2 separate regions of the Homo sapiens genome follow, and region 2 is reported to be linked to region 1. Evidence: microRNA targets listed by miRTarBase, many of them from high-throughput screens and not tested one by one. Region 1 holds a microRNA gene; the other region holds the end of a gene's coding sequence.
What was found. Region 1 holds the annotated microRNA hsa-miR-548ac (CAAAAACCGGCAAUUACUUUUG, at 1,380-1,401, opposite strand). A microRNA usually pairs through its seed, bases 2 to 8, with sites in the 3' UTR of a target mRNA and lowers its output. Matches are read on the target gene's strand: a 7mer-m8 pairs with bases 2 to 8, a 7mer-A1 pairs with bases 2 to 7 and ends in A, and an 8mer does both.

Region 2: the mRNA of CYRIA is a reported target of hsa-miR-548ac. Seed matches in the 3' UTR shown: 8mer at 2,304-2,311 and 7mer-m8 at 664-670.

Annotation. Positions count from the first base shown.
Region 1 is chr1:116,558,659-116,562,937 of GRCh38, forward strand. It overlaps MIR548AC (microRNA 548ac), which reads right to left and starts at 1,453; the gene lies at 1,366-1,453. The region is part of intron 1 of CD58 (CD58 molecule); the gene reads right to left. LOC105378925 (a long non-coding RNA gene) reads left to right here. Exons shown (of 3, transcript XR_947739.2): 3 at 1-2,529. RefSeq lists enhancers at 1,021-1,260, 3,860-4,009.
Region 2 is chr2:16,549,623-16,553,622 of GRCh38, forward strand. It overlaps CYRIA (CYFIP related Rac1 interactor A), which reads right to left. Exons shown (of 12, transcript NM_030797.4): 12 at 1-3,377. The coding sequence ends at 3,314. Among named protein-coding and RNA genes, the nearest start is that of CYRIA, 110 kb to the right of the region's middle.

The DNA of each region.
Region 1 (4,279 bases):
ACTGTTTGTTTTAACTCAATCAAGTTTCATACAGTTGTGACTCTTGCCTAGCTCTTAGCAAGTCCAATCCAAGGAGCCCTAGGCCAGCTCAGCCTCAGTAATAATATTTAACAGTAGCAGCAGCACGAAGATTCACTGCAGGCTTACTATGTGACAAGCACTTGTTCCAAGAGCTGTTTGTGTATTAACTCATTTAATCCTCAACTCAACTCTGAGGTAGTTCTTATTATTCATTTATTTGTTCATCAAATGTTCATGGAGTCCTGCCTATGTGCCAGACACTGAAATAAGCAGGCAGGATATAGCAATGAACAAAACAGACAAAATCCCAGCCCTCTTGGAGTCTATTTTTCAGTGGAGGGAAGAACATAATAAATGAAAAAGTAAATATCTTTTATTTGGATGATGTTGGATGATGTTAAGTGCTATAGAGAAAAATAAAGCAGAGTGTGGGGGCTGAGGAGTACTGGTAAGGAAAGGAGTTGGATGGCATGGGGGGCAGTCATAAGTTGGCATCTGAGCAGAGTCCAGAAAAGCAGGGGAGCGAGCCTAAGAACATCTGGGGTGAGAGTGAGAAAGGAGTTATTTCTTGAGAACACGCCTATCAAAGTAAGGTGGTTTGCTCCGCTGGACACTTGGTTGATAGAGAAGGTCAAAGATTCCGAAGCACCAGGCTACAGATGAAGAAATGGACTGAGAGGGTCAGCTGACTGCATTCACTCAGCTAGCAAGGGGCAGAGCTGGTGTCCAGACACAGGCAGTCGGCCCCAGAGCCTGCACTGTTGGCCAGAACATCAGATGCCTTGGTTGGGGCCATTCCTCTTTTTTCCTGATCGATTCCACCCTTAGCCGGTCCCAGTTAGTGACTTCTCTTATTTCCTTAAGACAGAGATTTACTGATTTCAGCCACACCACCACCAGTTTCCCTGCCCTCATCTACTTCATACTGAAACTGCAGCCACCTGTCTCCCAACGGTTACAAACCCTCGGTCCCCAAGGCCAGAGCAAGGTTCCCGGACCTTGCTCTCAGCTGTCAATCTGCCTCCTCGATAAGTTCATCAAGAATTAAGATGTTGGTTCTCTAAATCAACTTCTTTCTGTACTTTCCTTCTAATATGATGCTAAAATAGTTTCCTTTTTAATTCTTGTTCTTGCACTTAACCTATTTCTTCTTTCTCAAGATGTTTCCCTTTAGACCTATGCAATCCATCAAAGTAGCTACCAGCTACAAGTGGCTAGTGAGAACCTGAAATATGGTTAGTTCAAATGGAGATGTGTTCTGAGTATCAAATACACACCAGAATCTGAAGACCTGGTATTAAAAAGTGGAACATAAAATCTCTTGTTAATATTTTTTTGTAGTAACTACTAGGTTAGTGCAAAAGTAATTGCCGGTTTTTGCCATTAAAAAAAAATAGCAAAAACCACAATAACTTTTGCACCAACCTAATACATGTCGAAATGAAAATATTATGGATATATTAGGTTAACTAAAATATATTATTAAAATTAATTTCACATGTTCCATATTATACTTCTATTTGAGAGCACTTCTTTAGCCTGTTGTTTCAAGACACTCACATCCCACCTTTCTCAAAGGCCACATTTGTCTTTGACTGTTCTCACCTTAGATAGGATACAGCTGAGATCCACAGTATGCTTTAGGGAATAAGGTTCTTACTAGATCGGTTAAGGCTGTGAGTGTTTTTAAATCTATTCTCCAAAGTCTGATTCAAGGTATTTCAATACAGTACTGATCATTTCACTAAAATTCCTTGAGAATCCTTGTTATTTTCTAGATACTCAGTTCATCGTTGGGAAACTCTATTGCAAGTAGTTTACAATGGCACAGCCTCATTAGTTTCTTATTAATCTGATTTTTTATTTTTTTCTGAATGTGTATGTTAAACTTCAATTTTCTTCTAATTTTTAACTGGCATAGGAAGAAAATGTTCAAGAAACTACAGACTGGTCAGCCCAGTGGAAATTCAGGCACTAATCTCAACAGACATTTTGGGGAACATTGTAAAGTAAGCAAAGTTCACTAGAACCTATAAAGTAACCAAAAAGCATTTTCCTTGGAGGCTGATGGGCAGGCACTGAAAGTTATCTCCAAAGAGGAACTGCTAAAATGTTTTCCCCTCCTTTTCTAGGGACAGTCTCTGTATCTTATAGTCACACTTTATATTCAAACCTGAACTTATCTGAGAAAAGAGAAACGGCTGCATCCTGGTTTCACTTACAACCCTGAGATGGAAGTTGAGATTTGTCATTGCAGAATTTAAGGGTCTGTGTCCTTAAGTAAAACCTTCTGGTCACCCCTCAAGTAAAGCTTCAAAAAAGCTTAGGCACTTGTGCAGAAACAGCATGAGAAGAAACCAAAAGGCAGAAAACTTACACATATAAGGGCTGATTTATGCAAAGTTTCTACTTTTAAACAGAGAAACCAATACCTACCCTCAAAGCCTGTATTTACTAAAGAAATGTTAGAGTGACAAGGAGGTCAATAAAATAAATTATTCAAATCTGGTTCTTAAAAAGAGGTTCTAAGACTATTTTAAAACTTCTGAAAGATGCCCATCAAAATTAAAACAAAAAAACATAGCAACGAATACAATGAGTGAAACTTGATTAGATCCGGGTTTTTTAACAAAAGACACTCTTGTGACAAGTGGGGAAATCTGAATACGGGTAAAAGTTAGGTGATGTTACAGGATTAGTGTTAATATTTATAGATGTTATGATGTTATTGAGATTATGCAAAAGTGTCTAGGAGTGAAATGTGGGTACCTAGAGAATGTAAATATAATAATGTTAATAATAAATATGTCAATAAATTGCCATTGTAAATTCTATGTCCCAAAGAAGCACCCCTCACCATTACAAATTATGATATTAAATACAATTTTGCATGACTGGTAATTGTGCTGACCTATATTTCCCATGTTTTAGCAGAATTTCATTGGACAATGTATACATGTTGGATATAAGAAATCAGTAGTACTCATCTTCAAAAAGTTGCTTAGTGGATCTCAGGCTAGGGATACAACAGAGCATATAAAGGAATAGGTTCTGATTCAGAGAGAATCAAAGTTCAAGTTCACTCTGCCACTTATTTGCTGTGTGAACTTGGACACATTACTGAACCTACCTAAGCTTTGTTCTCCTATTAAATGTTCCCTATGTAATAAAATCAGTGTGACAATTAAATAAAAACATCTCAAATCTGAAGCATAGCTCCTGGCACAGAGCAGGTACTTACCTCCTAGTGGCTATTATTACTTACACTCTGTTATAACACTGGGCCTAGTTTTCCTATAGGAACACACAACACTATTTTAACTTGGATTATCTTTGCTAAATAAAAAAACACAGACTGTCTAAGTCTCAACTCCAGCAAAGCACATGAACAAGTCTCACATAATAATGTGAGATAATTTCAAATGGAGAAATGCTGGACAAATACATTGTCATCTAATGTTCAGATTCAACAATCTTTACTATTAAAAAAAAACAGATCAATATAAGGAAAATTTTAAAAAATAATACATGACTTCTGCATACAAGGAACTTAAAATCTAGTTATGCAGATAGTTGGCAATAAAGGATCTGTAAAATGTCAACAACAGCAGAATAAGACAGACTCTGTTAATAATAAAATAGTTCCTACCTTTTTATTTTTTATTTTTTTGCTCTGTTACCCAGGCTGGAATGCAGTTGTGTCATCATGGCTCACTGCAGCCTCAAATTCCCAGACTCAAGCAATTGCCAGGCTCATCTCAGCCTCCTGAGTAGCTGGGACTACAGGCGTGCACCACCACACCTGGCTAACTTTTTGTAGAGATGGGGTGTATTAGTCCATTCTCGCACTGCTAATAATGACATACATGAGACTGGGTAATTTATCAAGGAAAGAGGCTCAATGGACTCACAGTTCCACATGGCCAGGGAAACCTCACAATCATGGCAGAAGGCAAAGGAGAAGCAAAGTCATGTCTTAATGGTGGCAGGCAAGAGAGAGCGTGTGCAGGGGAACTCCCCTTTATGAAACCATCAGATCTTGTGAGACTTATTCACTATCACAAGAACAGTATAGAGGAAACTGCCCTCATGATTCAATTATCTCCACCTGGCCCTGCCCTTGACACACGGGGATTATTACAATTCAAGGTGAGATTTGGGTGGGGACACAGCCAAACCATATCATTCCACCCCGGCCCCTCCCAAATCTCATGTCCTCACATTTCAAAACACAATAATGCCCTTCCAACAGTCCCTC
Region 2 (4,000 bases), not on the chromosome of region 1:
AACTGGGTTCCAAGGTTTTGAACTCTTTAAGACAAAATTCCAATGTTTATTACTAACATTTAAAAAATATTTGTAGCTGCATAGGATACAAGATTGAATGAGAAGTCTCTGAATTCTACTGCACAATTGGATCCTAAGATTGGGAGGCTTAATTTTTCTTTGGGGAAAACATGAAATTATTTTTACTTAAATGTGATGATGCATCAGTAACCTCAGTTTACCATTAAGGTCTTAATTTAATGGTGATAACTAGGAGCAAATGTTGATCAAGCATGATGTTAACTAGTAGTTAAAAGGTAATATCCAAACTTTCTTTCTGGTTGTTAATACTCCACCCCTAATGTGAAGACATCCATTTCCAGTTGTTTTTTTTTTTTGTTATTGTTTTTTTTTTTCTACTACTAATTCCTAGTGGTGCACAACGAGTTTCTGAGAACACAGTAATAACGCCAAAGTAGCAGTGCATCTGAGAAACATAATTTTTACCTCGTTGCTTTCCCAAAAATAAATATCTCAGTCATGGAAAACACTGTTTATTTGAAAACAATGAGACCTCAAATATGAAATATAGTTAACAATGACATTGACACTGTTGCTAGCACTTTCCCCTAAACCACCCGTAAGTCTTGGACGCATGTGCATGCAGCACACACACACACACACAAAAACCAAAAACAAAGCCAAAAAAAAAAAAATCCCAAACACAACAATCCATGATTGTTCAATGACTCCTGATGCCGGGAGGACAGGCTGTTAAAAGAATTTGTCTCCCACAATATCTCTGGAGTGGGCACAAAGCCCATCACCTGTTAGTGATCACAGACATTCAGTTAACCTGTCCTTCCAGTAATCAGAGACAACAATTCAGACCCTGGACTTCTCAGAATCCATGTACTGCTGAGTCTTGGCTTTGAGACAAGACAAGTCTTGGCTAAATTGAGGCAGGACAGCAGCCCCTTCCATATGTTTGGTCCCATTTGATAGAAAGTCTAATTTAGAGTTATAAATGTGCTCATCTATTTACTCTGAGCTCAATCTAATTTGACAGGTAATTCCTCACATTTTCTCCATTAGCCAGCTGAGAGTCAGCTGTGGTAGAGACACACGACATGGGTTCAAGCCCCTCATGAGCCCTGTGGTGGCTGGCAAGTCCTTTCCTTTCTTTAAGCCTTAATCTCCTCACTTGATAGAGGGGGAGAAATTGACCCAATGATGATAAATATTGTGTGGTTCTATATTTCTAGCCTAGACAATTGTTGCTCAAGTGTAACATGTGACTGCCAAATAGGATATCTCTTAAGATGAATATCTCCTAACTTTCCTCACCTGGTATGATCACATATTCTGGCTTCCTCTAAGGTTTAGAATCTGTAGGTTCAAAAAGGTCTTGAAGACCACCTAGCATATTTCTATTCTGATGAGAGAAACTCCATCCAAGCAGCTGTACTTTTTCAACTTGAAAATCTCCAAGGAAAAGAGCCTTTTCCTTCTGTTGACTAATGTTTAGATGCAGACCAGGGAATCTTTCCTGTCACTTGGCTGAACTCCCTTGCTAAAACAACATAAGACAAGTATTTTTTCCCCTTTATTGGAGGATCCAAGGGAAGATCAGCTGGTCACTAAAGTCCAGAAAGCAATGGAGTCTTATAGCTCATTCCTGGGATGTTGCAAATAATGCCAAACTCTGATGTACTCAGACTCAACTTCTAGGATTATCATTCACTAAATGCCTGGGTGACTCCTTCTAGTGGAAACAGGCAAGTAACAATATAGACCAGACTGAGGATTTACTTAGAAGGGTTGAATCCCATCCCATAGTATGTATTCACAGCCACATGGTATAAAAGGAAGAGCATGGAGTCAAGAGTGAAGCATCCTGGGTTCTAGGCCCACATGGGAGCCATCCTGTATGACCACATCCTCTGGGTTTCATTTTTCCTTAGGAGGTCAGAATCAGAGATTTTCATGATTCCATTCGAACTAAGCTCTGATGTACAGAGAGAATGACTGCAGGCTTCATAATATTGTTCATCAACAAGACAAGGTGGGGCAAATGCTTGCTGGATACTACGTACTAAGGAAGAAGGGCGGAGTCAGTCATTTTATCGGCATTAACCTTACAGGGCTCTTGAAGATTGTTTTAATTGCCCATTTTAGAGACAAGGAGGTTAAGACTCAGAAAGCTTAAACACATTTCTCAAGATCACATTATGAATCATTAGTAAGGCCAGGAGTAAATTCAGGTGCACCAGGGCTTTTATATTGCAACAAGCTAGCAACGGGGTTGGGGAAGAGCTACTTTTTAAAAACCTGGGAAATAGAAAACATGGATTTTTTTTCCCTCTAAATTCCCCTAGTTTTCTGGTAACTAATGCAGTATCCTAGACCTTTGTTCTCATATGAATGGTCTTCAGAGAACAGGGCTCTTATGAGGGGTGGCTGTGCACCCAGAACTCTGCAGGTAACTGGAAGGTTGCTAAACTCACAAATAACTTCAAAGCCAGAGCTCCATTTCCCTAATCCCTGTAGGCAGAGGGCTGAAGCAGAGAGATGGCTGTCCTGTTGCCTGAGTGCACCTCTGAGGACCTGTCTCCCAGTTCCAAGACAGCCACCTTCATCAGTCCAGTGGCAACAGCACATCTATCTATTTCTGCTGCTCTCCCACTAACTGAAAAAAATACAGGAGATTTTTTTTTCATGTGAAATTAAAGGAGAACATTAGAGGGATATAAATCCAAACAGAAAAGGAGTATGCTGATTAATAAAACACGTGCAAACAGAAAAGTTGCACGTGTGGACTGCAGTCTGAGGACAGAGAGGGGGTGTGCTGAATTCGAAACACTTGGGTTTAATTCTCCACATGCATTTTTCTTGGATTCCTCTCTTCCTCTGTCAAGATAACAGTTGTGTTTCTTGTAGCTGAGCCGACACAGGAAATCAAATATTTTGTGTTTCTATAAACTATACTTCCCAGAGAGATAACACATCTAGAATTAAAATACTACCACAAACAATTAGGAATTTTTTATCGTTATAGATGTTGTTAAAGGACTCCAGTAGCAAAGATCAAAGTCTCCGAATTTTGCCTTTGGAGAAGGGGGTTTCATTTCAGACATCAAAGGTAAGGCTCTCAAGTCAATTTATGCTCTGCTGGGTTGAGTCAGTCAGGATACAAATTAAGGTCCATATATTTCAGTGACAAGAAGGAAACGGTTATGTAAATACACAAGTATTAACATCAATCTGTATTAAATTATGTAAACATATACATCTTCTGAGGTCAGCACATAGATCCTCTTCTTTGAGCAGAGCTCTACTGAAGCATTGCTCGAATCTGTTTGGAAGTTGATTCATCGTTCAAGTGCTTTGTAGTGAACCTGGATGGAGAGAGAATGGTAGAGGTTAGCGGCAAACAGTGCTCTGTGTAAGCTTCAGCCCATCTTTACCTTCGGAAACACAATTGATATTTGGGCTTATTTCTTTAGACAAAAATCCACACTTCAATGCTCACAGTCATCTCAGATTTAATATTTGATTCTTCCTTCCAAAGGAATTTTGTATTATGGTTATTAAACCAAGTAGATATTTTACATAATCAAATAATTACACAGAGGAGATATGAGCGGTCTCATTTTCTAGGGAGGTGGATTTCACAGGATTGAGTGCAGAATCCTGACCACTGAGGCTGCCCCTGCTAACTCACAAATTTCAGAATAGAGATTTGCATAGCAACATTGCCCAGAACTGGAATGTTTATGGTTCTCCACTTTCCTGGCAATGCTTAATTAACCTCATTGCCACCACAAGGGGGCACAAATGCTGGTAAGCAAACCCACAAAAATGGTGCAATCTGCAGCCTCCCAATAGCCGGGTGTAGAAATCATTTATGCAAAAGAAGGAAAAGAGAATTAACATGTAATAAAACTTTGGCCAGGTCATGGGCGCTCCATGTTAAGTTTCGTGTTACAATAACTTTGTAAAGGTGAGGTCATTGCCTTCA